Homo sapiens: one gene and its partner. The protein of the gene in region 2 purifies or fractionates together with the protein of the main gene of each other region. This does not show direct contact. Each region holds a gene or a part of one and is shown on either strand. Other genes may lie near its edges.

Region 1 (4,191 bases), on a different chromosome or scaffold from region 2:
TCTATAAAATCCAATTAGTCAGTATTTACTAAGCATTTACCATGTGCCTAAGACTACAATAAATTACACATAATTGAAAAAAATTAAGGATAAGATATAATTTCTACCCCCAAGAACCCTATAATCTCTTGTGAGGGCTATGAATACAATCTAAAATAAAGTATCAAATTCTACAATGCGGACTATGTAAGTGCACTAAGTAACCACGGAAAGGGAAGAGCTAATGGGTTACAGTCCTTGGCAAGAAATTCATGGAAGTAGGGTTGGAGTGGGGTGGGGGGAGCAGGGGACCTTGACATACATAAAGGATATTTAAAAGGGAAAATAACTGGGAGTTGGGAGCAATCCAAAGATGCCACTCTAGAAATATTCTGGTAGGAGGAACCTCTAAAATCAATTCAACTTTACTGAATGGCTACTAGTACTGTGTTAGATGTTGAGGTAGAGAAAAGAACAAGATAATCTCTGATACCGAAGAATTGAAAGTGTCCTGATGGAAAACTAGGAGAGCAAAACAAACAAAAACAGTTATTACAAAGCAGTGTGACAAATGCTGTAACAAAGGAATGACCAGGGAGTTCTGGAGCACTGGGAGAACTTTTAGTAGCATGGCAGGGTCTTCTGTGTGAGTGATTTTCTGGAACTTAGATCCCGTCCGCCCCAGTCTACCTATCCTCGGACAGGGGAGGGGACTGGCATCTAAGTCATTCATTCTGCGTGATGAGGAAGTGAGTGGGAGCTGGGAGCTAACACTTGCACTGATGCCTGAAGGGTTGAGTAGGTATTTGCCAGAGTGATTGGAGAGCGGATGGCAACTTTGACAGAAGAAATAGCAAATACAGAGATACTGAGGCATAAGGGGCTGACAAGTTAAGGAATTTTGTGACGCTTTCCTGTCTTCTTTCCCATCACCTTCACCTAGGGTTGCCGGATAAAATACAAGCTGCCCACTTAAATCTGAATCTCTGATTACCAACTAGTAATTTAAAAATATAAGTATGCCTCCAATATTGCATGGAACATACACACTCAGCCCCCTTCAACTCATCCTGTCCTGTCCGGGGCCCACAAATCCCCGGTGAATACCGGCGAGCTAGTGGAGTAAAGCATGAGAAGGCTTATCTTCCTTTCACTCCTACATTTTTCACTCTCGGATCTCCAGCCCAGGACTGAAGGATGTAGCGCGCAGCCCGCAGCTCGCTGCTCGTCGGAGGGTTTTCCTCTGAGGACTGGAAATGGGGCGCGGGAAGAGGGCGGGGGGCGGCGGGCTGTCACTTACAAAGAAATCTCACTCCACTCCATAAAATCCTCAAGCCAGTGCCGGATTTCCCGGCAAGCGGACGTCTCCCCTCCCACGGACCGGAAATCCCGCCTCCGCTGGAAGAAGAAGCGGAAGCGAGACCGTCCATCCAGAGGAAGGCAAGTTTTTGGCTCGGGCGGCTGAGAAGACCGCGCGGGGCTGGAGACAGGTAGCAGTACGGGGGCGGGGCTTCATGCCGGATGTGATAGTCTGCAGTCGTTTCGGTTGGCAGCCTGGCGGGTGGGAGATGCGGCGGCCACCTGCTGCAAAGAACCGAAGGGAAGGTTAGAAGTACGAAGGCAGTTTGGAGCTGGGGCTAAGCAGCTGTCGCACGGTCAGATCATGGGCTCCACCAAGCACTGGGGCGAATGGCTCCTGAACTTGAAGGTGGCTCCAGCCGGCGTCTTTGGTGTGGCCTTTCTAGCCAGAGTCGCCCTGGTTTTCTATGGCGTCTTCCAGGACCGGACCCTGCACGTGAGGTATACGGACATCGACTACCAGGTCTTCACCGACGCCGCGCGCTTCGTCACGGAGGGGCGCTCGCCTTACCTGAGAGCCACGTACCGTTACACCCCGCTGCTGGGTTGGCTCCTCACTCCCAACATCTACCTCAGCGAGCTCTTTGGAAAGTTTCTCTTCATCAGCTGCGACCTCCTCACCGCTTTCCTCTTATACCGCCTGCTGCTGCTGAAGGGGCTGGGGCGCCGCCAGGCTTGTGGCTACTGTGTCTTTTGGCTTCTTAACCCCCTGCCTATGGCAGTATCCAGCCGCGGTAATGCGGACTCTATTGTCGCCTCCCTGGTCCTGATGGTCCTCTACTTGATAAAGAAAAGACTCGTCGCGTGTGCAGCTGTATTCTATGGTTTCGCGGTGCATATGAAGATATATCCAGTGACTTACATCCTTCCCATAACCCTCCACCTGCTTCCAGATCGCGACAATGACAAAAGCCTCCGTCAATTCCGGTACACTTTCCAGGCTTGTTTGTACGAGCTCCTGAAAAGGCTGTGTAATCGGGCTGTGCTGCTGTTTGTAGCAGTTGCTGGACTCACGTTTTTTGCCCTGAGCTTTGGTTTTTACTATGAGTACGGCTGGGAATTTTTGGAACACACCTACTTTTATCACCTGACTAGGCGGGATATCCGTCACAACTTTTCTCCGTACTTCTACATGCTGTATTTGACTGCAGAGAGCAAGTGGAGTTTTTCCCTGGGAATTGCTGCATTCCTGCCACAGCTCATCTTGCTTTCAGCTGTGTCTTTCGCCTATTACAGAGACCTCGTTTTTTGTTGTTTTCTTCATACGTCCATTTTTGTGACTTTTAACAAAGTCTGCACCTCCCAGTACTTTCTTTGGTACCTCTGCTTACTGCCTCTTGTGATGCCACTAGTCAGAATGCCTTGGAAAAGAGCTGTAGTTCTCCTAATGTTATGGTTTATAGGGCAGGCCATGTGGCTGGCTCCTGCCTATGTTCTAGAGTTTCAAGGAAAGAACACCTTTCTGTTTATTTGGTTAGCTGGTTTGTTCTTTCTTCTTATCAATTGTTCCATCCTGATTCAAATTATTTCCCATTACAAAGAAGAACCCCTGACAGAGAGAATCAAATATGACTAGTGTATGTTCCACACCCTCTGCTACTGTGTTACATTCTGATTGTCTTGTATGGACCAGAAGAGAGCTTTGGGACATTTTTTCTGAACATTCTAAGCATTCTAGTGAAAGTTCCCATGTTCCAACAGAACTTAAAAGCAATGTTTGCCTTATATATAAAAGGGACACAATAATTGAGGTCCACCTTCTAGGAAATCCTAGGACTCGTTTATTTGGGACATGGTGGGAATAAAGGTCACATATTGGAAAATGGAAAGGCTGATGAAACTATCAGATACTAAAACATTCTTAAAATAGAGGAATATAGTTAGAGACATCAGGTTTAAGCCAGTATTTGTTCCTGTTTTACAATGCTTCTGTCTTAAGCTGTGTCTTAACTTTTAACACCCATCTTTTCTTTCTAAAGCTTTCCTGACAGCTGTGAAAATCCAAAAAATATTCTTAAACTGTGTATGGTGGCCCTTGCCTGTAGTCTCAGCACTTTGGGAGGCTGAGGTGGGAGGGTCGCTTGAGTTCAGGAGTTCTAGACCCACCTGGGGCAAGATGGTGAGACCTAGTCTCAAAAAAAAAAAAAAAAATTAGCCAGGTGTTGTGGTGCACCCCTGTAGTCATAGCTGCATGGGAGGCTGAGGTGGGAGAATTGCTTGAGCCCAGAGCAAGACCCTGTCTCAAAAAAAAAAAAAAAAAAAAAAAGGAAAGGACAACTTTTTAGATAGAAAAGTATTAAATAATACTAAGATGCTTAGTAGTATTATTTTAGAGAGTTTTAAACTTCTATATTAAATGTGGGGTCTTACAAGATAATCCAAAGACTTTGGGAGGCCAAGGCGGGCAGATCACGAGGTCAGGAGATTGAGACCATCCTGGCTAACACGGTGAAACCCCTCTCTACTAAAAATACAAAAAATTAGCCGGGCGTGGTGGGTGCCTGTAGTCCCAGCTACTCCTCGGGAGGCTGAGGCAGGAGAATGGCGTGAACTCCGGAGGTGGAGCCTGTAGTGAGCCGAGATGGCACCACTGCGCTCCAGCCTGGGCGACAGAGCAAGACTCCATATCAAAAAAAAAAAAAAAAAAAGATAATCCAAAGAATTTAAATTGTAATCATGTTTCATGTATTTGTTTTATTACTTACTTTTATAGCACTTAGTCCCAGTGGTATTAGACTGCTATTTGGTTTCATACAAAAAGGATTAAATTTAAATTCATTCATGTTTAGACTTGAGTTATTACATTTTTAAAACTATCATCTTGCCTTTAATGTTTGTGGTCCTACACAAACT
Region 2 (2,744 bases):
GGTAAGCGGACGGTGCCCGACAACCAGTGCTTCATCCAGTTCCTGTCCAACCCAGCAGTGACCTTTGGCACAGCCATTGCTGCCTTCTACCTGCCTGTGGTCATCATGACGGTGCTGTACATCCACATCTCCCTGGCCAGTCGCAGCCGAGTCCACAAGCACCGGCCCGAGGGCCCGAAGGAGAAGAAAGCCAAGACGCTGGCCTTCCTCAAGAGCCCACTAATGAAGCAGAGCGTCAAGAAGCCCCCGCCCGGGGAGGCCGCCCGGGAGGAGCTGCGCAATGGCAAGCTGGAGGAGGCCCCCCCGCCAGCGCTGCCACCGCCACCGCGCCCCGTGGCTGATAAGGACACTTCCAATGAGTCCAGCTCAGGCAGTGCCACCCAGAACACCAAGGAACGCCCAGCCACAGAGCTGTCCACCACAGAGGCCACCACGCCCGCCATGCCCGCCCCTCCCCTGCAGCCGCGGGCCCTCAACCCAGCCTCCAGATGGTCCAAGATCCAGATTGTGACGAAGCAGACAGGCAATGAGTGTGTGACAGCCATTGAGATTGTGCCTGCCACGCCGGCTGGCATGCGCCCTGCGGCCAACGTGGCCCGCAAGTTCGCCAGCATCGCTCGCAACCAGGTGCGCAAGAAGCGGCAGATGGCGGCCCGGGAGCGCAAAGTGACACGAACGATCTTTGCCATTCTGCTAGCCTTCATCCTCACCTGGACGCCCTACAACGTCATGGTCCTGGTGAACACCTTCTGCCAGAGCTGCATCCCTGACACGGTGTGGTCCATTGGCTACTGGCTCTGCTACGTCAACAGCACCATCAACCCTGCCTGCTATGCTCTGTGCAACGCCACCTTTAAAAAGACCTTCCGGCACCTGCTGCTGTGCCAGTATCGGAACATCGGCACTGCCAGGTAGGCAGGCAGGAGTGCCCTAGGAGGTGCTGGTGTTGCGTGCGTGTGCTGGGGGGACCACACGGCTCACTTGCTGTGGGGAAGAGTTGCAGGCACCATTCTGCGTTCACGTTTGCTGAGGAGGAAGTTCAGAAGAGGCTCTGTGGCTGCATTCAGAGACCAGATCTCTGCTCAGGCTGAGGAGGCTCACCCCAGGGAGTGTCTGAACTGGGGCTGCCTGGCCCACCTCTGTGGCCCTGCTTCAGCGAGCTGCGGGGCACTGGCCTGGGTGGGCACCTGCCCCACTGTGACCAACCATCAGCAGTGCTGGAAGAATGGACATCTGGATGGGGGCCGAAGCCCAGGGCCCCCTCAGGAAGAACAAAGGGGCCAGTGCTTGGAAAAGGAGGCTTGGGAAGGGAGTAGAAGGGTGGGGTCCCCCATTCTGCTGTAATCGGTGCTTTCTGCCCCCTTGCACCCCGCATGTAGGCTCAGCCCCCTCTCCCCAAATCCCACTCCAGGGGCAGAAATCTCCTCTGGCTGCAGCTACTTAGCCAGGTTCTGGGTGGGTATGATGGAGGCCAGGTCCCCCCCGCCCCAGCAGCACTGCCCTTGTCACATTAAGATGGGGCAGCTGGGAGGTCAGAGGTTCTGTCTCAGGAACTGAGGTCTGGCCTTCTGCGATCCCAGGCTGAGCCGTGAGTGGTCCACGTATTCAGAAGACAGCCCCCTGCAGCCCCGGCCTTAGAAGGCTGTCCCAGGTCACACATCGAGTCAGGGTGAGGCTGTGGTGGATGGCATTCCCATCTGCCCTCTTCAAACCTCTCACCCCCTGGCTTCTGCAGGGTGGAGGCCTGGGTCACACAGGCAAGAGGAAAGGGGTCAACCTGGTGGCTCACTCGGGTTTCCATGACAGTGGGAAGGGGGGAGGTGGGCAGTGAGGTAGGCACGCAGCCCTCGCATCTGCTCTCCCCCATGGGTAGAACCTTCCTGATTGGCTGTGGGTTGTATCAAAAGACCTTTGACTGGGTGAGGCTGAGATGGGTGTGGTGGTTCCAGTGAGTCAGCCAGGTTCCCTTCCCCAGCCCTGGTCCCTGAGGGAGATGAGGACCGAAAGGCTTAGGTGACTTGATGGGGAGCACCCTTTCAGGGGCCCTGGAAGAAATGTTTGTAATTGTTCTGCTTTTTCCATGAGCTCTGGAGAGCACCCACCACCAAGCCCCCTGAAACCCACCAGTCCCTACAGCCTGGTCTTTCTCCCCACCTTCCCACTCCCAAACACATTTCCACAGCAAACTCCTTGGGAAGGGGCTTTTATATATTAAAAAAGAAGAGCTTTTATTGGGGGGAAAAAGTCAGTTTATTTGATGTGTTTCTTAGTAATGGAATTGTGGGGAAGAACAAAAGCGGGCTCTGGGACTCACATTGCTTTGGGGGAGGCTCAAGCTTCCCAGAATCCCTTGTCCCTCCCCACTTTGGGCACTTAGGGGTGGGGCTGGGGAGTGAGAGGGACAAGGCAGGGCATGATTGATTAAAGCTAACGAGCAGACAGAAGGCACTGGTGGGTCACATCTCGGGCCTGGGAGAGGGAGGGCGTGGGCCAGGCCCCATGTGACACCAGGGGCTCCTTGGCATCCAGGCTTGGCGTCTAGTCCTTTCCCTTCCCTTTCTTGGCTGTAAAACAAGAAAGAAATATTAATACCATATCAGCAGTTAGGCTGACCCATTGCAGACCGCCGGCTCCACAAACACCCGGGCATCAGGGAAGGAGAAGATTCTGCCCCCTAGTGGTTTCCAATCAGCTGACTCGGAAGCAGGGGATGGGGCAGCCATTGTGATGTGGACATGGGACAT

What was found. The genes of interacting proteins can lie anywhere in the genome.
Region 1: the proteins of CHRM4 (region 2) and PIGM purify together in Homo sapiens (affinity purification with mass spectrometry; 2 studies listed by BioGRID and IntAct, with this or other methods). This does not show direct contact.

What each region holds. Positions count from the first base shown.
Region 1 is NC_000001.11:160,029,191-160,033,381, reverse strand, and holds the start of PIGM (GPI alpha-1,4-mannosyltransferase I, catalytic subunit), read left to right. Parts: upstream 1-1,391; 5' UTR 1,392-1,642; coding exon 1,643-2,914; 3' UTR 2,915-4,191.
Region 2 is NC_000011.10:46,383,289-46,386,032, reverse strand, and holds the end of CHRM4 (muscarinic acetylcholine receptor M4), read left to right. Parts: coding exon 1-915; 3' UTR 916-2,244; downstream 2,245-2,744. Other genes in the region: MDK (midkine isoform a precursor), read right to left, coding at 2,539-2,564. UniProt on the Homo sapiens protein: The muscarinic acetylcholine receptor mediates various cellular responses, including inhibition of adenylate cyclase, breakdown of phosphoinositides and modulation of potassium channels through the action of G proteins.